4 linked regions of the Homo sapiens genome follow. The protein of the gene in region 1 interacts with the protein of each later gene in a pairwise test. Each region holds a gene or a part of one and is shown in the gene's direction. Other genes may lie near its edges. The genes, in order: PSMD5, BTBD2, BTBD1 and TFCP2.

What was found.
Region 2: the proteins of PSMD5 (region 1) and BTBD2 interact in binary tests that used the Homo sapiens proteins (3 or more experiments, as listed by UniProt).
Region 3: the proteins of PSMD5 (region 1) and BTBD1 interact in binary tests that used the Homo sapiens proteins (3 or more experiments, as listed by UniProt).
Region 4: the proteins of PSMD5 (region 1) and TFCP2 interact in binary tests that used the Homo sapiens proteins (3 or more experiments, as listed by UniProt).

What each region holds. Positions count from the first base shown.
Region 1 is NC_000009.12:120,839,184-120,848,102, reverse strand, and holds the start of PSMD5 (26S proteasome non-ATPase regulatory subunit 5), read left to right. Parts: upstream 1-5,180; 5' UTR 5,181-5,193; coding exon 5,194-5,366; intron 5,367-8,919. UniProt on the Homo sapiens protein: Acts as a chaperone during the assembly of the 26S proteasome, specifically of the base subcomplex of the PA700/19S regulatory complex (RC).
Region 2 is NC_000019.10:2,012,408-2,020,215, reverse strand, and holds the start of BTBD2 (BTB/POZ domain-containing protein 2), read left to right. Parts: upstream 1-4,501; 5' UTR 4,502-4,512; coding exon 4,513-4,919; intron 4,920-6,497; exon of another isoform or gene 6,498-6,669; intron 6,670-7,808.
Region 3 is NC_000015.10:83,056,718-83,064,644, reverse strand, and holds part of BTBD1 (BTB/POZ domain-containing protein 1), read left to right. Parts: intron 1-2,799; exon of another isoform or gene 2,800-3,158; intron 3,159-7,927.
Region 4 is NC_000012.12:51,092,467-51,100,373, reverse strand, and holds the end of TFCP2 (alpha-globin transcription factor CP2), read left to right. Parts: intron 1-594; coding exon 595-719; intron 720-1,455; coding exon 1,456-1,598; intron 1,599-4,333; coding exon 4,334-4,385; intron 4,386-5,095; coding exon 5,096-5,133; 3' UTR 5,134-6,718; downstream 6,719-7,907.

The sequences.
Region 1 (8,919 bases):
GAGGCTGGAGTTCAGGGATAGACCGCATGGCCAAATTTGGGAACTATGACTACAGATGGTGTGAGCCACTGAGGAAATAACATCACTGGGGAGAAAAAGGTAGCTTTCATTATATAGCTTATATGACCTTGAGAATGTATATTATGTCTCTCTCTTTTGAGGGTGTAAGGGAGAGAGGGAAGGAAATGAGAAACATGATCATCAGGGAAAGGAAGACGTACGACAAATCCTGCACAGCTAGTGCCAGGATGCTAAAGTATTGTGATGAGGGAAATGGTGCAGACCAGGCTTCTAAAGTGAAGTTGTTAATGAAATGAAAGGTAGACAATACGCAGAAGCAGCCTGTCATATATGCTAAACTGTCTGTTTTCTGGAGAATCCAAAAGCATTGGAAACTGTTTTCTCTGATATCCCTAGTTGGTTTACTCAAGGATAAAATGCCCAGACTTCCTTCCTAACAGCAGGCTAATTGATTTAACCAAAGAATGTGCAAACAAGATATACTGTTCCTAAATTATGCAGTTTTTCCTTCCTTCTCTATACAGTCTATTTTTGCTTTTGTTGGACAACATCCCACTGATCGATCGATCTCTGAATAAAAACACTGAAATGGACTGTTGATTATCTAAATGCCTTTGAGTTATTCTGACAATTCCTTTAATTCAGTGTTCTTTACACCAGCCAGGACCTGACCCTAGCACTCCCCACACTCCCCCCACTCCCCCTCCAATGGCAACAGCAAAACTCACAGTGAAGATGCCTTGAGTAGGATGTTCACAGAGGCAGCCAGCTCCTTATCCAGCATGGCCCTGAAGCAAAGGCACAGGGTGGCAGTTACTGGAGCAAGTCCTGGGGTCTCAAGAAAGGGGAAGGGGATGGGGTTCCAGGGACTTACCCAGGAAACCTGACTCTAAGTAGACAGGCTTTTAGCATTCCCTCCCCTTACATCCTCCCTGCTCAAACCAGCACATTCCATAACTATCAGGCACAAAACCTCTGAAGATAAGCTGTTTGTAAGTCCTTCTCTGGGTGAGGAGAGAAGCAGGGAAGCACCTATGGGAAGGCAGTTTGAATAACAGGCCCAGTCTGCTTAGAGAATGGGAGTTAACACTGAACCAAAAATAAGAAGACCTAGGTTCCATTCCCCGTCCTGCAGTAACATGGCTGTGTGATCTTAAGTTCCTTCTTTCATTCTAGTAAGAAGTATTCAAGCACCTACTCTGAGATAGGCCCTTTCCCACCTCTCAACTTGAATCTCCTATTGGTACAAGAGGATTGGTTTAGCTGGTGGTTTCCAACCTTTTTCACTACCGAGAACTTCTTTTATTATGCCACCTTCTGCTGTTAACTCTCAGAGATGCATCTGGTTGATGGGTGCTTTGATTTGTAGATACCCATGTGACCGCACAGAGCTGATACAACTCCAAAGCAAAAGCAAAAAAAGAATCATATCCTGTGTTCATTTTGGCAAATACAAGCTCTTTTCACTTGTTATTAAAGGTTTCTACCACAGCCCTAACAGCATAGTCATCTCCTTTACAGACCTCTAAGATTTTTTGACTGACTCCAGGCTGAAATGCCTTGTCAGATGTTGTTTGTGTGTGTGTTTTAGAGACAGAGTCTTGCTCTGTCACCCAGGCTGGAGTGCAGAGGCACAATCTTAGCTCACTACAGCCTCGAACTCCTGGGCTCATGCAATCCTCCCACTTTAGTGTCCCAAGTAGCTAGGACTACAAGCATGCACCACCATGCCTGGCTAACCTAAAAAAAATTTTTTTTTACAGATGGGGTCTCATTTTCTGGCCCAGGCTGGTCCCAAACTCCTGGCCTCAAGTGATCCCCCTAACTCAGCGTCCCAAAGTGCTGGGATTACAAGTATGAGCCACTGCGCCTGGCCCAGATCACCTTTAATATTATACTGGATTTCAATCTCAGTCTGATTGCTGTGCATAGAATTGGTGAACACAATAAATTGTGTCTGAACTAGTACACGTGTCATAGAAATAGGAGCACCATCAGTGCAAGGAAGAAGTGTTCCCAACCATCCAAACTGCAAGCCCTCAGAGTGTAGCAGGCCCTGACAAATCTTCCTCAGATCTCTGACAGCCAAAGGTCTCCATTCCATGAAGTGCTTGGACCCTGCCAAACAAACCTTATCTGAGCCCTGCTCCCTGCTCTCTCCTTCCCTCAGCTGCTGCCAAGAGAATTGACCTACTCTGTCTTCCCTCAGGTTGAACACTGCTGAATTTAAGGGCTCCATACTAATGTGACATTACCGCCACCATCATCGTTCCTTTGGAAAGTTCCAAGAGGTAAATAAGTTCCTGACTGTGAAGAGTGACACATGGCATGAATCTGCTTTTGCAATTGCTGCCAGTCTTACTCAGTCACCCACTGAGAAATTATATTTTAGTGGTTCTGGAGGTGGCATGCAAACACAGGCAGAGTTACACCTCTAGAAAAAAGAATCCCATTGTCTCACAGGCCTTTCCCAGTCTCTTTGAGAGTGTAGACTCCTTGGGGACTGATCACAGCAACCTGAAAGATTACAGAACTGTTGAGCATTTGGTTATTCAAAAAGCCCATAGGGCTATAGAGTTGACTGAATGTAATTTTAAATCACACACACACACACACAAAACCAGCAGTGAGTCATCCATGGGGTGCCCAGGTTCTAGGAAAGCAGAAGACAGATGTGTAGAGCTACTAGGATCTCTAAAAACTGCAGCCATCACAGAATACTGGCTCACAAACCAGATGCATAGATCAGCTCTCACAGCATTTTTTTTAAATTCTTGATTTTGTTAACAAAATTTCCTTTTTTTTTTTAGTCAGAAAAAAAAAATTTCTTTTTTTGTCTCTCTGTCAACCAGGCTCCCCTCAGACTCAGATTCTGTATCCATCACCTTCACCTAAATGACATCCTCTTCTTCATGTCTTCCTTCTCTTTCTTCAAGTCCTTTGCTTTATTTTGAAGGTTCTTTTGCATCTCTTCATAGGTATAAGCAATTTATTGAAACCTTTTTTAAAAGTCAGGCTTCAATCCAGGAAAGGATCCATATGAATTGTAGCATCAGACAGCATTCAATTTCCTCTGCAAAGACTTCTTCCTATGGAAATAGACTCTCAGTGATGACCAAAGACAGAAACTTGAGTAGCTCATTAATTTCACTTTCCCTAATATCAATAAATCTTAAACCCACCTGTTTTGCAGACACTAAGATTTTTTTTAACTTCTTCATTAGCTCTAGGGAAATATGCATCATTCACACATCCTCCCACAGTTTCCAGCAAGCTTAAGAGTGGCTGATTTTATATCACCCATCACCTCTTTTATCACTACCAAAGCATCGGCAATATTGTACTGTTGCCATGCTTCTTTCAGAGTAAGGTGAGGGTTTTTTCAATACAGTCAGCAAAGTGGTCAAACATATGCTTGATTATGTTCAAATGCTTCAGTTATACCCTGACCCAAGGGCTGAAGAAAGCTAGGGCCTTCCTGAGGGAGAAACACAGTATCAACATTAGAATGAACAAAGAATAATGAATCTGGGTGATTGGGACCTCTGTCCACAGTTAGCAACATTCTGATTTCCAGATTTTTTTTGTTAAATGACTTCGGATTTGATGGATAAAAAAATTGTAAAACTAATCCAAAAAGTGGCAGTGGTGATTCTGGGTGTGATTACAAGAAAACAGGAAGGCGTTTATCTCTAAAAGACAAGTGGGGTGTTAGAGTCTTTGTAAAGCAGCAGTGGTTTTATCATTTTGTCACCTGAGGCACTGCCACAAAAAAATGAGGGAAATCCTGTCCTTAGCTTCCTCTAAGCTTTCCAGATTTTTGTCTTTTGCCCCAAAAGTAGGAAGGCATGCACTGCAAAAGATGGGTCATCTCCTTGGCGTTGAAGACCTGTTGAGGCACAAAGCCTCTCTCCAGTTGCTTGGAATACTCGATACCCACTCAGGATTTAAGGGTCCTTCCTCCCCATCAACTTCGTATGTTGCAAAACAGCAGCGATTTTTAAAGTTCTCAAACCATCCCTTGCTCGCATGATACTTATTTGGGTTGTCCTCCCCAGATGTTTCCCATTGGTTCCCTGTAGATGTATTTGGCCTGGTTGCAGAGGGCCTTCCGGGTCAGATGCCGCCCTCTGTCATCTGGCCTTCCACCTAAAAGGTTAACTGGGTCTCCACCTTCACGATGTTTACATTACAGGGGAATACACAGCAGCTTAGAGCAGATGGGCGACCAACTCTCCACGCTGGTCTTTCTTGGTTTCCTGAGGGTAGTGGAGGACAAGAGGGGAAAGCAGGGTCTTGCTCTGTCGCCCAGGCTGGAGTGCAGTGGCACAATCACCGCTCACTGAAGCCTCGACCTCCTAGACTTAGGGGACCCTCCCGCTTCAGCCTCCCGAGTAGCTGGGACTACAGGTGCGTGCCACCACACCGCACTAATTTTTTTCCTTTTTTTTTTTTTTTCTTTTTGGTAGAGACGGGTTTCTCACTATGTTGCCCAGGCTGGTCTCGAACTCCCGGGCTCAAGCGATCCTCCCGCCGCGGCCTCCCAAAGCGCTGGGATTACAGGTACGGCCACTGCGACCAGCTGCTTCTCCTTGGTGGACTGATCAACACCAACAAGGCGGCGCACGTCCCTATTACTCACGCCTTCGTCAGGCTCCTGGAGAATATTCATCCAGTCTTCCAGAGGCATGACGCTCCGCCTCCTCTTGACAGGTGGCTGGCCCAGGATCAAGATTCCCCTCCAGGCCACCGCTCCACCTGGGGAGGCCTCAGCCGCGGCCGTAGCCGCGGTGGCCTCCATAACGGCTGCAGTCGTCCCCGCCTAGAGCCTGGTTTTGGAGCCTCGAGGACGCCGACGAGGCTGTTTAACTTCCCGTGAGTCCCCACCCTCGCCGCTCCGCTGGCCGGGAATTTGGCAAGGCTTTGCCCTACGCGGTAAACACGTAAGCCTACTGGCCTCCGCATTTCCCTGAGCAGCGACCTAGATGACGCCAGACTGAGGGAGCCGCAACCACTGGCTACAGTTGACACGGCCCTAACGGAGGCTTCTCGCGAGGCTTGGCAGCCCCATAGCCATCTCAGGGACAAGGAGGCTGTGATCAGATCTCGCGAGGTTCAGGAAAGCGCCCCGGGAACTGGGCCGCTGGGCCAGCCCCTGCGTCGGGGGGCAAGATGGCAGCCCAGGCTTTGGCGCTGCTGAGAGAGGTAGCGAGGCTGGAAGCGCCGCTGGAGGAGCTACGCGCGCTTCACTCCGTGCTGCAGGCAGTGCCGCTCAACGAGCTTCGCCAGCAAGCGGCGGAGCTGCGCCTCGGCCCGCTCTTCTCCCTGCTTAACGAGAACCATAGGTGAGAGGACCCCGGGGGCTTGAGCCGAGGAGAGGGGCACCCCTAAATATGGACATGAGAGTGGTTGAGGGCAAGAACAGCGCTTTTCCCAGTCACAGGGGAGGTGGAAAGTAGCCGAAATTTGCAGAGAAGGAAGGATCCTGGGTTCAGAGGCAGGAGATGGGGTTCAGGTTCAGCCTCTGAGAGTGCCCCAGGGTGTTTTCTCCCGTCGCCTGGCCTCGCTGCCTCTGAGCAGTGAGGCACTGCCTTCTTCATCAAATAGAAATTAAAGGAGGAAAGCAAAGCTGTCCACTTACAAGGAGCATTCCACATCTCTTTGTACAGGTTCTTGATTTGTTTCCCCTTCTAAAAGGATCCTATCCTGGCAATGTGGCAAGAACCATCAGCATTTTAAATTCACATGCTTTTTCATCCAGTCATTCTTGTTAAAAAAATTTAATGCAAGTATACGCGCACAAAATGTGCAGTTACTTTGTTCTTTCGAACCCGAGGCTGGAATCGCCCCAAAAGCAGCGGCAAGAGAGTTCCCACGAGGGAGTGCTTCAAACCTTCCCGAGATGTGGCTGGTTGGGATGACAGAAAAAGAAGCACTGAATGCCAAGGCGATCAGTCCAAAAGCGTTTAGGGGGAAACCTGCAGAGGGCTGCAGAAATTGTCAAGACGGACACCGGGAGAAAGGTGTTCCTGGGTATGTCCGCAGTGAGGGGGTCAGGGTATGGAGTTCAGATGAGAGTTTAAAGGAATTTGGCTCAGGGTTGAGGCCAGTTTCTTCCAGTGTTTTGGGCAACAACCTAGGTACCTTTATCAGGCCTGTGAATGTTCAAGGCCCCTGGTTTATGGTCAAGCCTGCTAGGGAAACCTGCCGCTGGCTAGGTCAGAGAGCAATCAAGGCACTCTGATTTTCCATCAGGACAGAGAAAGAAAGGGGGCGACTGGAGGACCCTACAACATTATATGCAAGAATATAACATATCGTGTGTGGCACCAGAACACTAGAAACAATCTAAATATCCGTTAACAGAGGATTCCAAATTATGCGCTATTACTCTGTAACACTGTGCAGTTATTTAAGTTATTGAGGTAGATGTATATATATGTATGTGGACATGGAAAGATCTCTGTGTTTTGTTTTGTTTTGTTTTGTTTGTTTGTTTGTTTTCAGACGAGTCTCGCTCTGTCTCCCAGGTTGGAGTGCAGTGGCGCGATCTCGGCTCACTGCAACCTCCGCCTCCCTGATTCACGCCATTCTCCTGCCTCAGCCTGCCGAGTACCTGGGACTACAGGCGCCCGCCACCACGCCCGGCTAATTTTTTGTATTTTTAGTAGAGACGGGGTTTCACCATGTTAGCCAGGATGGTCTCGATCTACGGACCTCGTGATCCGCCCGCCTCGGCCTCCCAAAGTGCTGGGATTACAGGCGTGAGCCACTGCGCCCGGCCAATCTCTGTGTTGTTGAATGAAAAAGAAAATCGCAGGGTATATCAATCTATAATTTTAACCTGTAATTTTTAAAAAGGATTACAATCTTCCCAACCCCCACAGGCATGTAAAACTTGTATAACATTGCAAATATCTGCAAAGGTACACCAGAAACTATTAATAGGGAAGTGGGTCTGAAAATAGTAGGACAACTTTTATTTTTGATTTTTTACACATCCGTAGTGTTTGATTAAAAACACTTTGTAGGCCCGGTGCAGTGGCTCACGCCTGTATTCCCAACACTTTGGGAGGCTGAGGCGGGCAGATCACCAGGTCAAGAGATCGAGACCATCCTGGCCAACATGGTGAAACTCCGTCTCTACTAAAAATACAAAAGTTAGGCCAGGCACGGTGGCTCACGCCTGTAATCCCAGCACTTTGGGAGGCCGAGGCGGGTGGATCACAAGGTCAAGAGTTCGAGACCAACCCGGCCAACATAGTGAAACCCTGTCTCTACTAAAAATACAAAAATTAGCCGGGCATGGTGGCACGTGCCTGTAGTCCCAGCTACTCTGGAGGCTGAGGCAGGAGAATCTCTTGAACCTGGGAGGCAGAGGTTGCGGTGAGACGAGATCGCTCCACTGCACTTCAGCCTGGGCAACAGAGTGAGATTCCGTCTCAAAAAAAAAAAAAAAAAAGCAAAAATTAGCTGGGCTTGGTAGCGCACACCTGTAGTCCCAGCTAGTTGGGAGGCTGAGGCAGGACAATCACTTGAACCTGAGAGGTGGAGGTTGCAGTGAGCCAAGATTGCACCACTGCACTCCAGCCTGGCAACACAGTGAGACTCCATCTCAAGATAATAATAATAATATAATAATAATAATAAAAACACTTTGTAGACCGGGAGCAGTGGCTCACACGTGTAATCCTAACACTTTGGGAGGCTGAGGCGGGTGGATCGCTTGAGCTTTGGAGTTTGAGACCAGCCTGAGCAACATGGTGAAACCCTGTCTCTACAAAACAAAACAAAAAATTAACTGGGCGTGCGTGCCTATAGTCCCAGCTACTTAGAGGGCTGAGGGGGAGGATCCCTTGAGCCCAGGAGGCAGAGGTTGCAGTGAGCCAAGATTGCACCACTGCACTCCAGCCTGGGTGACAGAGTGAGGCCCTTTTTTTTTTTTTTTTTTTTTTGAGACGGGTTCTCGTTCTGTTGCCCAGGCTGGAGTGCAGTGGCAGGATGTAAGCTCACTGTAACCTCGCCTCCCAGGTTGAAGCAATTCTCCTGCCTCAGCCTCCTGAGTAGCTGGGACTATAGGCACGTGCCACCACCACAACGCCCAGCTAATTTTTTGTGTTTTTAATAGAGATGCAGTTTCACCATGTTGGCCAGGCTGGTGTCGAACTCCTGACCTCAAGTGATCTGCCTTGCCTGCCTCGGCCTCCCAAAGTGCTGGGATTACAGGCATGAGCCACTGCGCCCAGCCAAGACTCTGTCTAAAAAAAAAAAAAAAAAAAAAAAGATTAAAAAAACATTTTATAATTCTTACCTGGATTCTGGGGAAAAAAAGGAAAAAAAAACCACTTTGTATTTGATAATTTGATCATTTAAAAGAGTTTTGAAATGTTTGTGATCAAAGACTTTCAAGTGACCTTACTACTTGAAAAGATTATGAACCACTGAATCAACAGTGGATGATTTCAGAGCGCTTTCTTGGCTCTGACCTTCTAAGATTCCTTCCTTTTCTGTAAGTGTTCTCCATTCATGATGTCTATCAGTTAACATTATTTGGGTCTGCCTATGAAATGTCTCTTATTTGTCTCCTCTTTAATTCAAGCCCTCATTTTTTCCCTATTGCTAGGTCTGTAGTGTTAGTCTGACTTCTCCTTACCTCTGAAATTCCTTTTCTAGCAAATTCCTTTTCTAGCAAATTCCTTCCCACCTTGTAACCCCAGTGAGCATACATCTCGAGTCAGCTGGTGCTAATCTTTTCCGTGGTTTCCCATTGCCTGTAGTGAGTTTTTAGAATGCCATTTGGGCCCTTTACAGTATATTTCCATCCTACTTTTCCAACCTCACTTTTTTCCTCCACTCCACTTCTTTTCATCTGCTCCAGCTACCATGTGGCACCCTTAT
Region 2 (7,808 bases), on another chromosome or scaffold:
ATTACAGGTGTGAGCCACCACGCCTGGCCGCGAGAGACTCTTTAAAAAAAAAAAAATTAGTCATGGTGGTGCGCGCCTGTGGTCCCAGCTACTCAGGAGGCTGAGGCGGGAGGATCACTTGAGCCCAGGAGGTGGAGGCTGCAGTGAGCTGTGACCGCACCATTGCAGTCCAGCCCTGGAAGATAGAGCGAGACTTTGCAGAAAAAAGAAGGAAGGAAGGAAGGAAGGAAGGAAAAAAGAAAGAAAGAAAGGAACAAGAAAGAAAGCAAGCCAGCCAAAGAAAGAAAGCCAGCCAGCCTGAGTGTCCTGGAGTCAGAGAAGAGGAAAGGGGACCGTGGGAGGGAAGAAATGACATCCCACCCTCCTGGCCAAGGATGGTTCTATTATGTGAACTGCACACTTCTCTGGAAATGAATGGAAATCCAGCAATCAGCTTGGTGACGAGCGCCCTCTAGACGCCATCACCGCATAGACAGGGCTGGGATTGGTTCCAGAAACCCGGGGAAAACTCAAAAACGCTCAAAACGCACTGCCAGGGGCAGGTGTTGGCTCAATAGCCAGCAAAAAAAAAAAAAAAAAAAAAAAAAAAAAAAAAAGCACTGACAAAGGACAAAAAGGCTCCGCAAGCTTCCCTTGCCAGCCCTAGGGCTGAGGTGGACTCATGTTTCTGCCTTCATAGATAATCTCCATCCGTAATATGTTTAGGTCTAGTGAGAGGTATGGTTTACTTACAGCGAATGCACAAATCTTAAGCGTAGTTTGGTTAATTTAGGCAAATGCATGAACCTGTATCACTCACACCCCTCTCAAAATCACATGGGCCGGGTGCGGTGGCTCCCGCCTGTAATCCCAGTATTTTGGGAGGCCAAGATGGGCAGATCAGGAGGTCAGGAGATCGAGACCATCCTGGCTAACACGGTGAAACTCCGTCTCTACTAAAAATACAAAAAAATTAGCCGGGCGTGGTGGCAGGCGCCTGTAGTCCCAGCTACTTGGGAGGCTGAGGCAGAAGAATGGTGTTAACCCGGGAGGCAGAGCTTGCAGTGAGCCGAGATCGCGCCACTGCACTCCAGCTTGGGCGACAGAGCAAGACTCTGTCTCAAGAAAAAAAAAAAAAAAAAAAAAATCTCCACATGGCCGAGTGGTTCACACCTGTAATCCCAGCGTTTTGGGAGGCCTAGCGAGAAGATTGCTTGAGCCTAGGAGTTCATGAGCAGCCTGGGCGACAAAGTGAGATCCCGTGTGTGTGTGTGCCTGTGTGTGCGCGCACGCGTGCGTGTGTGTTAGGCAGGGCCTCACTTTGTCGCCCAGGCTGGAGTGCAGTGGCACAATCTCAGCCTCCCCAGCTGTAGCCATCCTCCCACTTCAGCCTCCCAAAAGCTGGGACTACCGGCACACACCAGAACACCTTGTTAATTTTGTATTTTTTTGTGGAGACAGGGTTTCACTATGTTGGCCAGGCTGGTCTCGAACTCCTGAACTCAAGTAATCTGCCTGCCTCGGCCTCCGAAAGTGCTGGGATTACAGGCGTGAGCTACCATGGCTGGCCTACAGCTCTTTAAAAAAAAAAAAGTCCAGGCGCGGTGGCTCACATCTGTAATCCCAGCACTTTAGGAGGCCGAGGTGGGCGGATCACGAGGTCAGGAGATAGAGACCATCCTGGCTAACACGATGAAACCCCGACTCTACTAAAAATACAAAAAAAAAAAAAAAATTAGCCGGGCATGGTGGCAGGCGCCTGTAGTCCCAGCTACTCGGGGGGCTGAGGCAGGAGAATGGCATGAACCTGGAAGGCAGAGCTTACAGTGAGCCGAGATTGCACCACTGCACTCTGGCCTGGGTGGCAGAACGAGACTCCATCTCAAAAAAAAAAAAAAAAAAAAAAAAAAAAAAAATCGTGAACATCTCAGCATTCCGTAAAGTTCACCCTTTCCTCAGACAACCTACCATTTTGTTAATTTCTGTCACCATGGCAGGTATGCCTGTTCTGCACCTTCATCTAGAAGGGACTGCACAGATGTCCTCTTTAGGATTTGGCTGGAAAGATGTCACTTTGCAAATGTATGAGATGAGAGATAAGAAAGTTGACATTTAGAGGCCGGCTGTGATGGCTCCCGCCTGTAATCCCAGCACTTGGGGAGGCCAAGGCAGGCGGATCACCTGAGGTCGGGAGTTCGAGACCAGCCTGACCAACATGGAGAAACCCCGTCTCTACTAAAAATACAAAATTAGCCGGGCGTGGTGGTGCATGTAATCCCAGCTACTCAGGAGGCTGAGGCAGGAGAATCGCTTGAATCCGGGAGGCGGAGGTTGTGGTGAGCTGAGATCGTGCCACTGCACTCCAGCCTGGGCGACAGAGCAAGACTGTCTCAAAAAAAAAAAAAAAAAAAAAAAAAAATATATATATATATATATATATGTATATACATACACACACACACATATAAAATTAGCCAGGCATGGTGGCAGGCGCCTGTAGTTCCAGCTACTCGGGAGGCTGAGGCAGGAGAATGGCGTGAATCTGGGAGGCGGAGCTTACAGTGAGCCAAGATCGCGCCACTGCACTCCAGCCTGGGCGACAGAACGAGACTGTCTCAAAAACAAAACAAACAAACAAAAAAAAATTAGCCTTAGCCAGGCGTGGTGGCGGGTACCTGTAACCCCAGCTACTCAGGAGGCTGAGGCGGGAGAATTGCTTGAACCAGGAGGCTGAGATTGCAGTGAGCCAAGATCGCCATCACTGCACCCCAGCCTGGGCAATAGAGGGAGACTCTAAAAAGAAAAAAGAAAAAAGAAAAAAAAATTGTAACTACCTCAACCACCCACTCTGGAGAACTGAAAATAGCATTATCACTTGGGTTTTTTTAATACCCTATTTTCTTTTTCTTCTTTGTTTTTTTTTTTTTTCGAGACAGGATCTTGCTCTGTTGCCCAGGCTGGAGGGCAGTGGTGGAGTCATAGCTCATCAAAAGCTCAACCTTCCAGGCTCAAGTGATGCTTCCGTCTCAGCCTTCTGAGTAGCTGGGACAACAGGTGCGTACCACCACGCCTAGTTTTTTTTTTGTTTTGTTTTGTTTGTTTGTTTGTTTGTTTGAGACGGAGTTTTGTTCTTGTTGTTCAGGCTGGAGTGCAATGGCGCGGTCTCGGCTCACTGCAACCTCCGCCTCCCAGGTTCAAGTGATTCTCCTGCCTCAGCCTCCCGAGTAGCTGGGATTACAGGCACCCGCCACCAAGCCTGGCTAATTTTCGTATTTTTAGTAGAGATGGGGTTTCACCATGATGGGGTTTCACCAGGATGGTCTCGATCTCCCGACCTGGTGATCCGCCCGCCTCGGCCTCCCAAAGTGCTGGGATTACAGACGTGAGCCACCGCGCCTGGCTAATTTTTGTATTTTTTGTAGAGACAGGGTTTTGCCATGTTGCCCAGGCTGGTCTCCAACTCTTGACCTTAGGTGATGCACCCCCCGCCTTGGCCTCCTGAAGTGCTGGGATTACAGGCGTGAGCCACTGCGCCCGACCTGGTTCCTCAATCTTTGTGGCATTTGTCTACCTTGACATTATGTATGTAGTAAGCGTTTTGGGGGAGTCCCAGCTCCGTCCACACTGACCACCCCCCACACCTGGCCTGGAGAGGGTGCTGGGCGTCTGCTGAGTGTCAGTGCACGTGGCCTGCATCCTGCTCGCTCATCCGCAGCTTCCCGGCCTCAGGCTATGTCTCTGTACAGCGGAGCCTGCGCCACGGAGCAGGCCCGCCACCTGGGTCCGGGGTCTGGGGTCTGGAGTTTGCGCTTGGTCTTTGGGTTGGGGGTTCCGGGTCTGAGGTATGGGATCTGGAATCCGGAGTCTGAAGTCTGGGGTTCAGAGTCTGGGATCTAGGATTCAAGGTCTGAGGCCTGGGATCCCGGACTGAGGTCTGTGCTCCAGGGTTTAGGATTCCCGGTCTGGAGTCTGGGGCCTGGTGCCTGGACCCCAAATTCTGGACCTCGGTCTGGAGTCTGGGCTTCAGGTCAGGATGCTTAGGGAGTGGAGCAAGAGGTCTTCCACCAGCTCCTCCCCTCTACAGGCCCCTCCTACTCTTCCCTCTCCTCCCCGTCCCCTCCCCTGCAACAGCCTCCCCCATTCACCTCCCTTCTCCCCTCCCTCCTCCCCTCCCACCTCCCCTCCTTTCCCCTCCCTCTCCTCCCCTCCCTCCTTCCCCCTCCTTTCCCCTCCCTCTCCTCCCCTCCCTCCTTCCCCCTCCTTTCCCCTCCCTCTCCTCCCCTCCCTCCTTCCCCCTCCTTTCCCCTCCCTCTCCTCCCCTCCCTCCTTCCCCCTCCTTTCCCCTCCCTCTCCTCCCCTCCCTCCTTCCCGCTTCCCCTCCCCTCCCTCCTCCCCTCCTTTCCCCTCCCTCCTCTTTTCCCCTCCCCTCCCTCCTCCCCCTCCTCCCCCTACTCTCCTCCTTTCCCCTCCCTCCTTCCCTCCTCCCCTCCCTCCTTCCCTCCTCCCCTCCCCCGCCCACGCCGCAGCCACAAAATGGCGGCGGGTGGGAGCGGCGGGCGTGCGTCGTGCCCGCCGGGGGTCGGGGTCGGCCCGGGCACGGGGGGCAGTCCCGGGCCCAGCGCCAACGCCGCCGCCACCCCGGCCCCCGGCAACGCGGCCGCCGCCGCCGCCGCCGCCGCCGCCGCCGCCGCCGCCCCTGGGCCGACGCCGCCCGCCCCGCCGGGCCCCGGGACAGACGCGCAGGCCGCGGGCGCGGAGCGGGCGGAGGAGGCGGCGGGCCCGGGGGCGGCGGCGCTGCAGCGCGAGGCCGCGTACAACTGGCAGGCCAGCAAGCCCACCGTGCAGGAGCGCTTCGCCTTCCTCTTCAACAACGAGGTGCTGTGCGACGTGCACTTCCTGGTGGGCAAGGGGCTCAGCTCGCAGCGCATCCCCGCGCACAGGTGGGCGCCCCGACCCCGCCAGCCCTGGCCCCGACCCACCCAGCCTGCTGCCCGGGCCCTGCACCTGAGGCCCTGCACCCCTCTGTCCCCGAGACCCCCGCACCCCTCCATCCCCGAGCCCTGCACCCCTCTGTCCCCGGGACCCCTGCACCCCTGCATCCTCAGGCTCCGAACCCAACTCGGCCTGCACCCCGGGGCCTGCACCTGAGGCCCTGCACCCCTCTGTCCCTGGGACCCCTGCACCCCTCCGGTCCTGAAACCGACCCGGCCTGCACCCCGGGGCCTGCACCCTTCCATCCCTAGACTCCACCCAGTTCCCTGGGCTCTGCACCCCTCTGTCCCTGCCTCTGCACCTCTCTGTCCCCAGACCCCACCAGGCCTGCACTCTGGGCCTCTGCACCCCTCCATCCCCAGGCCCCCCTGGATCCTCCACCTCTGGCTTGCGCCCCCAGCCTGTTCCCCGGGATCCCAGGCCCTGTACCCCTGGGACCCCTGCTCTCCTCCGTCCCTGGACCCACCCAGCCTGCACTCCGGTACCCTCCGTTCCTGGGACCCTCCAACTCGGCCTGCACTTGGAGCCCCTGGGCCCCTCCATCCTCAAACCCCACCCAGCCCGCACCCCAGAACCCTGAATACCCCATCCTCAGGGCCCTCCACCCCCCGCCTGCACCCTAGGACCCTCCATTCTTCCATCCCCAGGACGCTCCATCCCTGGACCTCACCCCTCCCTGCACCCCAGGTCCCCAGACACCTCTGCCCCCAGATCCCTGGGCCCCTCCACCTCCGGCTGGAACCCCTGCCTACACCCCAGGCCCCTCCATCCCTGGACCCCACCTGGCCTGCATCCCTGGGTCCCCTCCATGCCCTGGCCCTGCACCCCCACCCACCACCCCTGGGACTCCTGTGACCCTCCAACCCTGGGACGTGTACCCCTATCTGCTCCTCCATTCCCAGGACCCCAACCCACTGTTTCTAGGACCCATGACCCCACATGCCACACCCCTCCATCCCTATACCCGGGGATCCTCAGGACCCCTCCATCCCCAGGCCCTGCACCCTTGCCTGCCGCCCCTCTCCCCCTGGGACCCCTACTGGTGACCCCTCCGTCCCTGTACCCAGGGACTCTCCAGGACCCCTCCTTCCCCAGGTCCTTCACCCCTGCCCACTGCCCTTCCACTCTCTACTCCCGGGGCCCCCTGGGACCCCACTACACTCAAGTGTGTCACCCCTGCATCCCAGGATGGAGAGACTTCTCCGCTCTCACCTGAGACCCCCCGTCCCCAGTCCTCACCACCTCAGTCCGTAACCCCCAACCTATGACTCCTGAACTCCAGGACCCCTCCCTTCAGGGGTCGTGCTATTTCCTCCACCCCCACCCATGACCACAAGACCCCTCCCTCTTCCCCCACCATCCAGGGACCCTGCCACTCCCACCCGCACCCCTGTGCGCCAAGACCCCTAGGCCTTGCTCCCTGCGTCCTCCCTGCTGCCTCCAGACCCAGTGACCCCCACCGGAGACCCCCAGGCTCAGCACATGATCTGGATCAGAGACCTTCAAACCATGCTGCTCCCCTCCAGGGATACCCCCTGCCCGCCCTGCAGTCCAGATCATAGACTACCATCCACAGCCCCTCCAGCCCCGGACCCCCACCTCAGCCAGAGACCCCTGGGCCCTGCCACCTCCCACTTCAGTGACCACCCACCTCCAGCTCCGCCACTGCCAGGCTCTGGACCCTGGACTCTGCAGAAGGTTGTCTCCCCTGGGCCCTGCTACCCCCTGCACCCCATCCTATGATCCCCTGCCACCAGGCCACCACCCTAGACCCCTGCCCAGACTCCCATCTCCGGGCCCTTCCAACCCAGAGACCCCCAGCTCCGGGGTCCCTCCCTCCCCAGCCCCCAGCCCTCCTTTCTGGGAAAGAAGTGGGTTTGGCCCAGTATCTGTCTTTGCCAGTGTGCGGGGTACCGGCCCCAGGCCCCAGGTTCCCTCCACTCCCCGGTCCCTCTTACCCTGCCCCTCATTGGTCGGGGGCAGGGGCTGGGTTTTCTTGCTGCGGGCACTGGAGGGGGAGGGTCCTGCCCTCCCTTCTGACCTTCGGGTGCTTTTGTTAACGTGTTCTGGCTTCTTCCTGGGTGTTTATGGGCAGCTGGGTCTCCTTTCGTGGGGTCCTGCCCTGGGCGGTACTTAGCAGAGGTTCCTGCCCCTGGAGGGTTCCGGGGCCTCCTACGGCTTGTGCCGTCCGTGTCGCCGTCCCTGTCTCTGTCGTCCTTAGCTGCTGGGCCTCTCCTAGCTTGGAGTGAGGGGCGGTGGGTTTGCTCCCTCCACCTGGGTGGTCTTTGTGCTCTTTGGGGAGGGGGTAGGTTGGATGCAGCTGGAACTCACCCAGCAGCAGGTGCAGCTGGAGAATCCCAGGCTTTCTGTTTGAGGGGGGAGGTGGGGCGCCCCGGGCACCGGCTGACCTTGGGACATGTATGCGATTGCACTTGAGGGACCGCTGGCTCGGTTGCAAAGTGGGGAAGATGGAGGCAGGACAAGGACCCCTTGGAGAAAAGTAGGTGAGGGGTCTGCCCCCGGGGGGCTCAGGAGAGGGCAATGAGGCCCAGCGGGAGATAGCAGCAAGGTAAGGTGGGCGGGCCTGGGACAGCGGACCCTCGACATGCGGGGTTAGGGGCGTGGACCCCCACTCAGCTCAAATCCAAGTACAACTTTTGACTCCCACGAACTTAACTAGGAATGGCTTCTCGCTGACCGGAGGCCTTGTGAGGACACTTGGTCAATGCACACCAGCCTCCTGTTCTCACAATAACAGGCTGGAGAACAGAAAATACATTCAGAAAAGTCTAAGGGGCCGGGTGCGGGGGCGCACGCCTGGAATCCCAGCACTTTGG
Region 3 (7,927 bases), on another chromosome or scaffold:
CTCCCTAAGTGATACTTATACAAACTAAATTTAAGAACCACAAATCTAAAACTATTTTGGGGCAATTTTTTACTTTGAAAAAATATTGAGATTACTAGGATAAGAATGTAGAGGAAAAATACATATTTTAATATTTTCACCGAAGCTGCTAATTAGTGCTTTCCCATCAATAGAAAGTAAGTTAATTTTAGAGTGTTTGAAATGTAGGACAGTGCAATTTTTTTTTTCACATTGTAAAACATTTTTTACATTTTTAAACTTTTTTTTCATTTTTACATTTTCAGTGTGTTTTATTTTCCTAGCATTGTATTTATCCTTCAGGTTCTGGTCATTGTTCTATTTTGAAATTGATATCTGGACTGATTTCTAAATTTAATTTTGGCTGGCTGTGTAACGTAGATGTTGTTGTTAGCTAATACGTGACAAAAAGATGCCTGATAGTACTTGCTAAGTTGGAAGAGCAGGTTAGTTTGGGCATACTTGTAAACATCCTGAATTAGTTAACATTACTTACAGGCTCATGAACTTAAGTTTGAAGCCCTTAAAGAAACTGTGCACTTTGAACTGCCTGACCTTTAAATGATGTTCTTCAGTTGTTTGACAAATACTATATGCCTCCCTTTTGGGGCGCTTGTGAAACAGCGAATGGCTGTTGTAGGTGTTTGGGACACAGCAATAAACAAGAAAAAGTCCTTGCCCTCATGAAGCACATAATCTAGTAAAGGGAAACTAAAGATACAATGTCAAGTACTGATGAATGTTTTGAAGAAAAATAATCAAGTTATGAGAGAAGGAACATTCTCAGCAAGGGAACGCATTGTTTTCGGCACTAAGTATCTCCTGTTGGAGGAACACAAGAGTGAACCAGTGTGCCTTAAGCACAGTAGAGGGAAGTGGTAGAAAATGAGGTCAAAAAGATAGGCCAGACAGGATGGTGCAGGGCTTTAGAGACTGAGCGAAGACTTTTTCAGCTGGTATTTGATGGAAAGCCTTTGGAGAGTTTTGAATGAGATTGGGGAGGCGGAGGTGGTGGCAGGAGGTTGTGATCTGATTTACATTTTAAAAAAACAAACTCTTTCTGGCAGTGGTTGGAGTAAAATAGGCAGCAAGGTGATAGATGAAGAGGCTTTTGCAGTAGTCCAGGCAAGAGGCGATGGTGAATTGTACCTTGTACCAGGGAGGTAGCAAAGGACATGATGAGACATGGTCAAATTCTGGATATATTTTTGAAGGTACAACCAAGAGGACTTCCAAGACATCCAAGTAGTGTCATAGAGTAGACAGAAATATGAATTTGGAGGTGAGGGAACAGCTTGCTGAACATAAATTTGCAAGTTAAGAGTGAATGGTATTTAAATCGAGAGATCAAGTGAGATTACCTAGGAAGGCATGTAGACTGTGAAGAGAGGTACAAGGATGAGCTCTGGAATCTTCAAATATGTAGAGATGTAGCAGAGAAAAAGCATAAAATGAAACTGAGAAGCAGCTGTCAGTGGAATTAGAAGAGAAAGAAGGAGCATTATATTCTGAAAGTCAAGTCAAAACATTTCAAGAAAGAAGAAGTGGGAAATGTCAACTATGGAAAGTGGAAAGTGGTCAGTTATGCTCAATGCTATTGAGAGTCAGGTATAATGAAGACTTTGAGTTGATTTTTAATCTTGACAAGGTGGAAGCTATCGATAACCCTGCCAAGAGTGATTTCAGCTGATTAGAGTAGGTTAGGCAGAAAATGGGAAGTGAGGAGCTGGAGACAGTATAAACAGTCCTCTCAGGAGTTTTGTTGCAAAGGGGAACAGAGAATGACGTGATGGCTGGAAGGGGCACGAGGTAAGTGTTCTTCAGTATTCAGTCCTCAGCTCTCATCCTTTCTCCCATCAACCAAAGTGAGAGCTTTACGCACTCATTCCCCCACATGTGTCTCCAAAGCTCTACTTAGCTCCAGACCCTCATTTCCAACTGGACCATCGTGAAGTAATGTTTTATACCCATGCAGATGGACATGTTATTAATGAAAATATCTGACATTTAATGAGTACTTTTACTGTGTGCCATAGATTGTTCCTAAGCCCCTTTGTGATCTCACTTAAATTTCAGGAAAATCCTTTGAGACAGGCATACTTCTTATCCCCCTGCAATAGCTTTTGCCATATTAATGCTATAAATAAAGCAACCCCCAAAAAGCAATAATTTATTCTTGCTTATGATTCTGTAGGTCAGCTAGGAAATGACTTCATGGGCCTAGCTCCAAATTGTAGTTTCGTTTCACTCCATTCTACACATTTCTTGTCCATTTTAGACCATTCCTGAAAATTTTACCTGCCTCTCCATTTTTTTCTGCATTGCTTCAACCAAACTACTGCGTTTAGACTTAACTCTCTCCATTCATCCTGTTAACAGTGATCTCTCCAATATTGGTATATGGTCATATAATTCCCCTGAATCTTTTAATGACTTCTTTTTACCTACAGGATGTTTAAACACTTTAGCAGGTACATGAAACCTTTGTGATTTGATCTCTCTTTCTTCATCTCCTCTCCATCCACTCAGTGTTTCAACCCTAATTACTAATGGCCTTTTTCTTGTTTTAGTGCCTGCTTCTAAGGCCTCCTTACCTTTGTACTCCTCAGTCTTTCTGCCAGGGCTCCACACTTAATTACTACTCTTCAGATAATCTTCAGGCTTTACTTCCTCTGTAAAAATTCCACCCACAGGCAAAATTGCACACTGGCTCATCTAATTAATCTCTCACAGCATGTTTTGGTTATCTGTTGCTGTGGAACAAATCACTGGAATGCGTAGTGACTTAAACAACTTTTATTATCTTTTACAGTTGTGTGGGTTGACTGGAATCACTTAGGTGGTTTGTCGTCTATGTAGCTGTAGTCAGATAGCAGGTGGGGTTGGACTCATCTGGAGGTTTAACTCACAGTCTGGGATGGCTGAGCCTTAAGTCTCAGGTCCTCTTCAAGAGGCTTCTTCAGCTGGTCTCTCCAGCAGGGTAGCTTGACTTCGTGGCTCATGACTCCGAGGAACACAAAAGCAGGAGCTGCCAGGCATCCTTAAGGTGTAGGTCTCAGACTGGTGCAATGTCACTCTGCCACAATCTGTTGGTTCAAGGGGCTCACACAGGGACAACCCAGATTCATCATGGGACAGATCTATGTAAGGACATGAACACAAGAAAGTATGATTTCTTGGGGCCATCATTAGAGATTAGTTATTAGATATGAGTGCCTAATATATACTTCTGTTATTAGGACATTACTTTTTAATCATTTCAGTACCAGACTATAGTTGCGTGCTGCATAATGGCATTTTGGTGAACAGTGGACTGCAAATAAGATGGTGGACCCATAAGATTATAATACGGTATTTTTACTGTGCATTTTCCATGTTTAGATACACAATACTCACCATTGTTTTAAAGTTGCCTATAGTATTCAGTACAGTAACATCCTGTACTGGTTTGTAGCCCTGAAGCAATAGTCTATACCACATAGCTTAGGTGCGTAGTAGGCTATACCATTGAGATTTATGTGAGTGCAGTCTATGATGTTTGCATGATGATGAAATTGCCGAACAATGCCTTTCTTAGAATGTATCTCCATCTTTAAGTAATGCATGACTGACTGTGTAAGGTTTTTATGGGCAAAGCTATCTTACCCATATTTTTATCTCTAGCACTATTACAGTGCCTGCTATATAGTCCCTCAATAAATGTTTTTGAGTAAAATGAACAGATAAGTAGTGATACAAAGTTTCTTACACATATCTTGTGATCATTCTTATATAAAATCAAGTATTCACCTTAGGCTTTTAAAATTTACTTTATTTTATTTTATTTTATTTTTTGAGATAGAGTTTCACTCTGTCGCCCAGGCTGGAGTACAGTGGCGCGATCTTGGCTTACCCAATCTCCGCTTGCTGGGTTCAAGCAATTCTCCTGGCTTAGCCTCCCGAATAGCTGGGATTACAGGTGTGTGCCACCACGCCTGGCTAATTTTTGTATTTTTAGTAGAGATGGGGTTTTACCATATTGGCCAGGCTGGTCTCAAACTCCTGACCCCAGGTGATCCGCCTGCCTCGGCCTCCCAAAGTGCTGGGATTACAGGTGTGAGCTACCGTGCCCGGCTTTAAATTTTTAGTTAGATTAAATATAACCTAAGTTGTTTTTTTTTTTTTTTGAAAATTATTAATTTGGGGGGAAAATAGGACTAATTTGAGGACATGTAATAATTTTTCTGTGCTCTCGTCCTTAGAGGTTGTATATGAGAGCTTAAATGATCACTTTAAAATACGAAGAATTGTGGTAATGTCATGTTTAATCTTTACATTTTAAAAACCTTGGCTTAGTTTTTTTTTAAATATTATAAAAACTCTAATAATTAAATAGAATGTAAAGGAAATGTATACATATGAATCAAGAGGATTCTTGGATTTTTAAGTAACTTTTTTTATTAGAAATGAAAATATTTTCCCTTTTGACGTTACATAGAAACCTGTGCTGAATTGTCTAGTCAATTAACGTGTATTTATTGAGACTTAAACACATGCCCATAATGTGCCTGGTACTGTTTAAGAAATAAATTAAAAATATAAGATACACAGAGATCCTTTTCTTACTGTTTATTGTCCAGTATTTATTTTTAATTTGCAGTGCACCCAAAAGAACTTAAAATGTCTTATAAGAAACACAAGGGTAAGAAATAAACTAGAGTCAAGGGTGAAGCTAATAGAAAAATGTATGCTGTCAAGCTGGGTACAGTGGCTCAGGCCTATAATCCCAGCACTTGGGGAGGCTGAGGCGGGAGGATTGCTTGAGGCCAGGAGTTTGAAACTAGCCTGGGAAATATAGCAAGACCTGTCTCTACAAAAACATAAAGCATAAAAAAAAATGAGCTGAGCCTAGTGGCATGTGCCTGTAGTGTTAGTTACTCTGGAGGCTGAAGCAGGAGATTCACCTGAGCCCAGGAATTTCAGGATACAGTGAGCTATGATCGTGCCACCACTCTCCACCCGGAGTGACAATGAGACCCTGTCTCAAAAACAAACAAAATGTATAAGCTATAAACTTTTGTTGTTGTTGTTGTTGTTGTTTTTGAGACGGAGTCTTGCTCTGTCGCCCAGGCTGGAGTACAATGGCGTGATCTCAGCTAACTGCAACCCCTGCTGCCCGGGTTCAAGTGATTCTCCTGCCTCAGCCTCCTGAGTAGCTGGGATTACAGGCGCCCGCCACCATGCCGGCTAATTTTTGTGTTTTTAGTAGAGTCGGGGTTTCACCAGGTTGGGCAGGCTGATCTTGAACTCCTGACCTCAGGTGATCCACCTGCCTTTGCCTCCCAAAGTGCTGGGATTACAGGCGTGAGCCACCATGCCCGGCCAACTTTGTTTTAATTATCTGAGCAGCTAGTGCAAAAAGAGAAACCTGGGTGGACGTAATTATTTATAGATTAAAAACAAGGCAACTGCTTAGGAGATGCACAAATCTGATAATTAGATGAGTTTTTAAAAAAATCCTGATGAGATCCCCTCATACAGAAGACATTGCTGTAATGAAGTGTCTTCAGTCTGTGTCTTCAGATACATACTTGTTTTAAAAAATGTTCCTTGATAGAAAGCAAAAGTATATTACTGAAGTATAATTTGATAAAAGCAATTTGAATGGGAGATCTCACACAAAATAATCTACAAACTTGATTCTCTCTTGTTCCTGGAGTGTACTTCCCACCGTCCTTTTAATCTTTAGATCTAATCTCAAGCAGAAATTTCTCTACAAACCTTTTCCACATCTTCCTAAGTCAAAGCCCGCATTTATAGATTCTCATAGAACCATGTATAGGTTTGCGGCACTTGTCCTGTTAAGTGTGAATCTAATCAAGGGCAAATGGTGATAAAGGCCTCACATTGCTGCTCTGTTTTACAACTCTAGTAATTTTTACCTGACAAAAATACATCAAGGCAGGCATGTAAAGACTTCTAGACTGCTACCTTGTCCTTCAAACAAAAATTTCTTTTTTTTTTTAATTAAAAAAAAATTTTTTTAAGTCTCACTTTGTTGGCCGGGCTAGAGTGCAGTGTTGCGATCTCCGCTCCCTGCAGCCTCCACCTCCCAGATTCAAGTGAGTCTCCTGCCTCAACCTCCCAGATAGCTGGGATGACAGGCATGAGCCACCGTGCCTGGCCTAAAACAAAAATTTCATAGTTTTCTAGTTTAAGAAGGGAATTGAGCATGCTGTTAGCATTCTCTCTCTCTCAATTAAAATGACTATTAAGAAATTTTTAAAAAATAGTAAGTCCATTACAATGAAGAGAAAAAGAGAGGTTGGAAGGGCCAACAGAGTAGAAAGGGACAGAGAAGTTGGAAGCTGATTGATGGATGAACTAGAGTAGATGAATCTGGAGCCCAGAATCCAGAGCTTTCAAAGCCGCAGCGGAGCTGGAGCGCCTTTCCTGGCAGAACCCCAACAAAGTTCTTGGCTAGCAGTTGGAAGTAAGGAGGGTGGAAATGAGAAGGTAGTGCTAAAACATGGAAATTAATTTAAAGCCTGTGTATAGACCATCCCCTTAGCCAGCTGTCCATGACAATGGACAGGCTTTTTGAGATAAATTGAACAAACTGCCTGAGAAGAACTGGGACTGCTGGGTATGGCTTTGGGACCCCAGGGTTAAGCTCTCTTCCAATGGCTTTGAGGGGTCCCTGCCCTAGGGCTGGCTTCCCACTCTAATGCCAGGTGCCAGTCAGCAAGCCTCCCACATACACAGAGCTCCCAGCCAACATTTCTGTTTTGGAGATAGTATTATCTTGAAAACAGACCAGCTGCTTAGAATAGTGAAGTTGGAGACGGAGTTTAATCATCTGACATATAAGGAAAAGCAGAACGTGAATGACAGAGACCAAGAGAAACACAACAGCGGATCCTCAAGGAAACAGACGAGAACTTTTAAAACTTTGGTTAATGTCATCTTGGAGACTTCAGAAAGTTTTTGCGTTCATAAAACCAGCACATGGTGCTGTGGAGAAAAAAGGAACGATCAAGAAAGAAGCAAGCATTCTTAGAAATTTAAATGTGATTGCTGTAGAGAAAAATAGGAAGGCACCAGAAGATAATGGCAAGGAAATCTTCCAAAATGCAGAGGGAAATAATGATAAAAAATATGAGACAACATACAGATAAATAGCTAATATTTACTGAGGCAATTTTTTTTGTCAGGCGTTATTCAAAATGCTTTGTGTTTTAATTTATGTTAATCCTCACAACCACATTATGAAGTAGGTGCTCTTATTCTCATCTTTTTAGAGAGGCAGGCATTGATAATAAGTCACATGGCTAGCAAGTGACAAAACAAGCTCAAACCCAAGCAGTCTATTTCCTCTTGGCCTTACTGTATGGCACTGAAAACAGTCAGAAGCCCTGAAATGGTGTGTTATGGTAAACAGCTCTCCTGTTTCCTCAGCCTTGGTTTTCTTATTAAAATGCAGGGAATAGCACCTTCCTTCTATGTGAGAGGATTAAATGAATTGGCATTTGTCATACGGCAGACACTCAACAAATGGTAGCTTTCTCTCTGGTTTTATTCATTCCCCTCTCTTTGGCCATGAGGGACTGTGCCTTACTTAGCTTTTAATTCCCTGTATTCATCACAGAGTTTGCTACATAATGTCAAGTGAGCATTATGAGGGTGATACAGTTGAGGCTGAGGTGGGAGGATAGCTTGAGCCTAGGAGTTCAAGACCAGTCTGGGCAATATGGTGAAACCTGTCTCTACAAAAAATAAAAAATTAGCCAGGTGTGATAGTGCAAACTTGTAGTGCCAGCTACTTAGGGAGCTGAGGTGGGAGGATGGCTTGAGCCAGAGAGGTTGAAGCTGCAGTGAGCCATGCACTCCAGCCTGGAATCGATCAAGACCCTGTCGATGGATGGATGGA
Region 4 (7,907 bases), on another chromosome or scaffold:
TCAGATCAAGAGGTAGTTGAATACCTTTCTCTAAGAAGAACAGAGAAAGGACTTAGGCTAGTTAGGAGAAGGTAATGAGAGAAATAAGATGATCTAGTTTACTGTGTTGGCATTTTTTAGTAAAAAGTATATCTTGAACCTGACCCATTAGACGGTGGCTTTTATATTTTGACTATTTCTAACTTTTACACCAAAGGCCACAAACTCAAATGACTATAGAGTACATACAGGTAATGTAAGTGAATGGCAGTCAAGACTGGGGTATAGTGAAGAATATATGCATCATGTAAGAAGAACGGCTGATTGTTTTCATGTGAGAATGCAGGCCTAAGATTGCTAGATCTGAGTCTTCAGGAAAAGCCAAAAGTTCAGAGGTTTATATGATGTCTCATATTGGAACTAATTCCACTTAAGGAAAAAAAAAACCCTACTACTGGGGAACTAATAAAACATAGCAAATTAATTGCATTTGGCCAATGAGCTTCCAATTTTCATCTGCTCTATACGATTAATGTAGAAACACAATTTCTCCCTTCTTTTTATTGTGCTTACCATAAAGAATGTAAGACTAATTAGCCTTTTTCCTCCCCTTAGGATGGTGCGTCCAAGGTTAACCATTTATGTTTGTCAGGAATCACTGCAGTTGAGGGAGCAGCAACAACAGCAGCAGCAACAGCAGCAGAAGCATGAGGATGGAGACTCAAATGGTACTTTCTTCGGTAGGTTGTTCTGGACACACTAGGACAGATATGAAGAAAGGTGAAGAGATAACTTATGGGCATGTGTGATGGGAAACTATCAAACAGCAGATTTAGTATTTGCTAGAAGTAACAATAATCACTAGCATTTATTAAGTTCCTAATACATGGCAGGTGCCATTCTTTTTTTTTTTTTTTGAGACAGAGTCTCACTCAGTTACCCAGGCTGAAGTACAGTGGCACAATCATGACTCATTGCAGCCTTGACCACCTGGGCTCAAGTGATTCTCTCCCCTCAGCCTACCGAGTAGCTAGAACTAAAGCTACTCATTTGCCTAATTGTTTTATTTATTGTAGAGATGGGATCTCCCTATGTTGCCCAGGCTGGTCTTGAACTCCTGGGCTCAAGCGATCTCCCTGCCTCAGCCTCCCAAATTGCTGGGACTATAGGTGTAAACCACTACACCCAGCCAGGTACTATTCTTAACACTTTTTATATGCTTTAATATTTACAACTAATATCTCCTCTTTGCGGAGGATTTTACTGTTATCTCCGGTATTTATGCAAGAAAAATCAGGCCTAGGAATGTTAAATAACTTGCCCTAGGTCACACAGCTGCAAGTGGTTGAGCCAGGATTTGAACTTAGGCAGTGTGATTTCTGAGTCCTTCAGAAAAGTGGGCATTCCTAGTGATCAAGTTACCTGTAAGAGTGGACAAACTTTGTACTGACTGCTGTTGCTCTCTCCCTTTTGCAGTTTACCATGCTATCTATCTAGAAGAACTAACAGCTGTTGAATTGACAGAAAAAATTGCTCAGCTTTTCAGCATTTCCCCTTGCCAGATCAGCCAGATTTACAAGCAGGGGCCAACAGGAATTCATGTGCTCATCAGTGATGAGGTAGATTTTTCAGTACAGTTGAATTACCAGATGATGATTAATTTGTCAGCGCATGGAGCAAGAGCAGTTCTCCTGGGGCAGAGTGTTCTGTTTTCTAGATCAGAGGGTTTCATACTTTTTTGCTTGCTTTCCTCCTAATTTTTTTTTTTTTTGAAACAGTCTCTCTCTGTTGCCCAGGCCGGAGTGCAGTGGCCCAATCTCAGGTCACTGCGACCTCCTCCTCCTGGATTCAAGTGATTCTCCTGTCTCAGCTTCCCGAATAGTGGGAATTACAGGCGTGCGCCACCACGCCTGGCTAATTTTTGTATTTTTAGTAGAGATGGGGTTTTGCCATGTTGGCCAGGTTGGTCTCAAACTCCTGGCCTCAAGTGATCCACCCGCCTCGGCCTCCCAAAGTGGTGGGATTCCAGATGTGAGCCACTGCGCCTGGTCCTAAAATATTTTAAAAACCACATATTCCCATGCACATTTTTAGGTTGACTTAAAATTTTTTGTTAAAGTTTAAATAGTTGTAAAAGATGTCATTTCTGGGCATATATAATGACATTTTTAAGTGAAATGGTTACATCATTATTCTAATTGCATCCCATGTAACCTTAATACAAAAATGATTTAATACCACCACCATCCATTAAAAAAAAATACATGATTGTGCTTTTCTTTAACAGTTAGAATTCTTATACTATTCCTCTGTTTCCTTGAACTCTTATTTTCATTTACTTCCCCCGGTGAATTTTATCTTACTGTAACTTTTTTTTTTTGAGACAGAGTCTCACTCTGTCGCCCAGGCTGTTGTGCGGTGGTGTGATCTCGGCTCACTGCAACCCCGCCTCCTAGGTTCAAGCAATTCTCCTGCCTCAGCCTCCCAAGTAGCTGGTATTACAGGCACCCACCACCATGCCTGGCTAATTTTTGTATTTTTAGTAGAGGCTGGGTTTCACCATGTGGCCAGTCTGGTCTCGAACTCCTGGCCTCAAGTGATCAACCCGCCTCAGCCTCCCGAAGTGCTGGGATTACAGATGTGAACCACCACGCCTGGCCATCTTACCATAACATATTTTTATGCACAAACATCTTTTATTGATTATCCTACTATATTTGTTTGAAATAAAGTTTTTAAATAAAAATTTAAAAATTATTATAATGGAATTATCATAATTATACAATTGATTAAAATAATGTAAATATGCTACATGTTTTAATAAGTAATTATTAAAGATTAAGAAGGCTGCCCAGGCGCAATGGCTCATGCCTGTAAACCCAGCACTTTGGGAGGCTGAGACGGGTGGATCACAAGGTCAGAAGTTCAAGACCATCGTGTCCAAGATGGTGAAACCCCATCTCTACTAAAAATACAAAAATTAGCTGGGCATGATGGCAGGTGCCTATAATCCCAGCTACTTGGGAGGCTGAGGCAGAGAACTGCTTGAACCCGAGAGGCAGAGGTTGCGGTGAGCCAAGATTGCGCCACCGCACTCCAGCCTAGGCGACAGAGCGAGACTTCATCCAAAAAAAGAAAAAAAGAAGGCCAGGCACAGTGGCTCACACCTGTAATCCCAGCACTTTGGGAGGCCGAGGCAAGCAGATCACCTGAGGTCAGGAGTTTGACCAACATAGAGAAACCCTGTCTCTACTAAAATACAAAATTAGCCGGGTGTGGTGGCACGTGCCTATAATCCCACCTACTCAGGAGGCTGAGGCAGGAGAATCCCTTGAACCCAGGAGGCGGAGGTTGCGTGAGCCGAGATGGGGGCATTGCGCTCCAGCCTGGGCAACAAGAGCAAAACTCTGTCTCAGAAAAAAAAAAAAAAATTAAGAAAAAATTATTACAGGTATATCTATGAATGAGTTCGATGAAATTGTTTCGTTCCCTACCTGTACCCTTGCACATAATTATTTCCTTTGTAGCTGAATACTGCCTATTGATTGCTAGAATGACACAGGATTTCAGCATCAATTCCATTCTGTTTTTTTCCTCTAGATATAAATGCTGAGGGACTTGATTCCCATAAATTGATAGGAATGGATGGAATTTTGTAATGACAATGTCATTAGATTATACTTCAGAATTATATACCAGAAATTACATAGTGATATTACCAAAAAATCATTTTGAATCCTCTGTCTTACGACAATTTGTGATTAGGTTACTCTTTAATTCTGGTGAAAGGAAAGAGTTAGAAACCATGTGGCTCATAAAAGGGTCTATTGCTCAGTTATTAGCGTTCACCTTCGCCATTCCACTTTGCCACCTGAAGCTTTCACATCATGGGCCACCTTATTAGGATCCTGGGAGGGTGAAACTCATGCCTTTATCTTGGGAGAAGGGAGTTTATCCCTGGGAGAAGGGAGTTTGAGAAGGGAAAGTGGGGAAGGAAAATTAAAGAGGTTTTAGGAAAGAGCACATATGGGAGTTGAAGACACGGAAGTCAGTTCTCCTGTATGCACATATTTGTGTCCGTGTGCTCCTTGGAGAGTCTTGGGGTTAACCCAGGGAAATGCATACCAGGCTTTAAAACAACTCTTCCAATCTGCTTAGTTTTTTAATATTTAAAAACCAAATGGGAGGGGAGGAAAAAACTTTTATGATCCTAGATATTCAAGAAATACATTATTTGTGACCTGTAAAGCCTCCCATATAAATCCCTCTGGATGTGGGGTAGTCCTTAGGGACACAGGAATATAAAGGGGTTGTTTTTCATTTAAATAATCACAAATTTTCTTGCATTTTTCAGATGATACAGAACTTTCAGGAAGAAGCATGTTTTATTCTGGACACAATGAAAGGTAATAGTAAGACAAACATCTTTCTCTAAGCAGTTTAACAGCTTTACTACTACTAGGCAAAGTACATACTTCTTTGAGGAGAGATAGGAAAAGTAACCATATTTGGGTAAAGAAAGTGACAATATTAGAGATTGTTCCTTTTTTTAAGTTGGCTTTTTTTTTTTTTTTTTTTTTTGAAACAGAGTCTCGATCTGTTGCCCAGGCTGGAGTGCAGTGGCATGATCTCGGCTCACTACAACCTTCGCTTCCCAAGTTCAAGTGATTCTCCTCCCTCTGCCTCCCAAGTAGCTGGGATTACAGGCACGTGCCACCATGTCTGGCTAATTTTTGTATTTTTAGTAGAGATGGGTTTCACCTTGTTGGCCAGGCTGGTCTCGAACTCCTGACCTCAAGCGATCCACCCACCTTGGCCTCCCAAAGTGCTGGGATTACAGACATGAGCCACTGTGCCTGGCCCAGCTTTTTGCCATTCTCTTCCATCTTCCATTACAGATGAGGAAATTGAGGCATGTTGTTTTTATAATGCATTTTTTTTGAGACAGAATTTCGCTCTTGTTGCCCAAGCTGGAGTCCAGTGGCGTGATCTCAGCTCACTGCAACCTCCACCTCCCTTTTCTCCCCTTCTCACGAGAATCTTACCATACTTTTTTTCTCCTGCTGTGTTTTAGAGGTGACTAAAGATGATTCTCTCTCTCTCTTTTTTTTAACAGCAGAAACCAATGATAGCTATCATATCATACTGAAGTAGGAGTGCGGCGTTTCGTGCCCAGTGGCTGCTCCTTCCTTCACCTCTGAAAACGGCCCTCTTGAAGGGGGATATGAATGGAGATTTGAAGGTCTGCAAGAACCTGACTCGTCTGACTGTGTGTGGAGGAGTCCAGGCCATGGAGGCAGAATCCTGGCCCTCTGTGTTGGCCCAAGCTCTTGTGGTACACACAGATTACTGCCCAATATGCAGTTCTGCAGCTGTTTTAGTTAAATTTCTGGACCTTGTTGTTGTTAAATATCAGTAGAAACTCTACATAATTTAGAGTGTATGTAGGGCATAATGATGATGGGAATTGTGTGATGTTTAACAGGAAGATCTTAAATTTTGTGATATGGAGCCCTGTAATTTTTTTCTTATATAAAAATGGGTATCTATATTCATAAGACTAGGTCTTCAATCTCTTTGTACTGGTCTCAAATGTACTGGTATCTCTGCTTTTTGCCACAGTTTGTCCCTGAAAACTTTATCAGTGAGGAGAAATACAGAATTTTCCTTTTGGTTCCCCTGTAATACCACAACTAATAGTATTTTCAGCTAACATTTATTGACCAGGCAGTGTGATAAATTTTTTGAATGACCATCTTGTTTAACCCCCTAATCACACTATCTGAAGTAGGTGCTATAGTGACCCCCAACCGAAGATGAGGAAATGGAGACACACAGTGGCTAAGTAGCTTGCTAGGTGCCAGGAGCTGGCAGGCAGTGATGCTGAAATCCAAACCAGGCAATCTGGCCCTCCTTATTCACCCTCTCATACCACCAGTGCTACCCATTATAACCTGTGTTCACTTCGCTTATTACTGTGGCCCTTCTGGTGACTACAACATAACACTGAGTATGAACTGAGGAATTAACCACTGAAAGAGACAAAGCACACCTAAATAATGATGAACAAATCAAGACCTACAAGAAATGAACACATAGATGCTTTTTAAGTGTCATTAGTTATCGGAATCAAAGAATTTGAGGTGGTGACAACTGGGGATTATCTGTAACTCCCCAAATTTACTGTTCTTGAATGACATTCTCAAACTATTTATTAATGAGTTAGTCTCATCCCTGCTTTCTGTTTCCTCTCTCTGCATCTTCTCTTGGCATAGGAAGTTATTTTACTCATGCTATGTTTTTTAATAGAAGCTTTACAAAAAAAGATGCATTCCCTTCCTGTTCACACTCTTACCATGTTTTTGTTCTTCCTTAAGAATGATTGTGTGTGTGTGTGTGTGTGTGTGTAAGTGTGTAAGTGTAACATCATGGGTTTTCTTTCTTCACTTGTAAAGTTTTATCTAGAAATACTTTTACAGGTTATGTTGAGGTACACAAAGATAATGTTCTAAGATTGTGTATTGGATTTGGATTTGTGTGTGTGTGTGTGTGTGTGTGTGTTTAAAGCATTTGATAAGGTTTAAATGTTTTTTATACAGAGATTTTTGTTCATTAAACTCAATCTGCATCATGGTCTAATTTCTCTTGGTTTGAAACAAATTGAAAACTTTGAAACCAAAAAATTAAGTCAATGACTTGTTTAAAACTGACCTGAGCAACTTGTTATATTACACCAAAATGCTTCTTAGTGAATGATTACCAGGTGTCTCCATTTTGAGGAGGAGACGTATCTGGTTGTCTTATATTCCTAGTACTGGTTCTCAACCTCAGTTCTTTCCTCAGCAGGCTGCTATTGGTTTGGATTTTTTTTTTTTTTTTTTTTTTTTTTTTTATGTCTAGGTGTTTGGGTAGGAAAGTTGGACTAGATGCCTTTTTCTTTTTTTTTTTTTTTAATATAGAAATGAGTCTGGGCACCGTGGCTTATGCCTGTAATCCCAACAATTTGGGAGGCTGAGGCAAGCAGATCACTTGAGGCCTGGAGATTAAGACCAGCCTGGCCAACATGGTGAAACCCTGTCTCTACTAAAAATACAAAATTAGCTGGGCGTGGTGGCACACACCTGTAATCCCAGCTACTTGGGAGTCTAAGACATGAGAATTGCTTAAACCTGGGAGGTGGGGTTGCAATGAGTTGAGATCAGGCTGCTGCACTCCAGGCTGGGTGACAGAGCAAGACTGTCTCAAAAAAATTTTTTTTAATAAAATAAAATATAGAAATGAGGTCTCACTGTGTTGCCTGCCAGGTTGGTCTTGAACTCCTGGGCTCAAGTGATCCCCCGTCTCATCTTCCAAAGTGCTGGGAGTACAGGTGTGAGCCACCGTGCCTGGCCAAGACTAGGTGACTTTTTTGTTTTGAGACGGAGTCTCACTCTGTTGCCCAGGCTGGAGTTAAATGGCCTGATCTCAGCTCACTTGCAACCTCTGCCTCCCGGGTTCAAGCAATTCTCCTGCCTCAGCCTCCTGAGTAGCTGGGACTACAGGCACGGACCACCATGCCATGCTAATTTTTCTATTTTTAGTAGAGATGGGGTTTTACTATGTTGGCCAGGCTGGTCTTGAACTCCTGACCTCATGATCCACCCACCTCGGCCTCCCAAAGTGCTGGGATTACAGGTGTGAGCCACCGCACCTGGCCCAAGGCTAGGTGACTTTTAAGGTTTCTTCCAAATCTTTGCATTTGTGACTCTTACTGCAAATGATGCATAAAATTAAATATATAGATGAGGCACAGTGGCTCATGCCTGTAAGCCCAGCACTTTAGGAGGCCAAAATGGGAGGATCACTTTAAGCCAGGTCAGGAGTTCAAGACCAGCCTGGGCAACAAAGTGAGACCCGCCCCCCCATCTCTACAAAAAGTTAAAAAAATT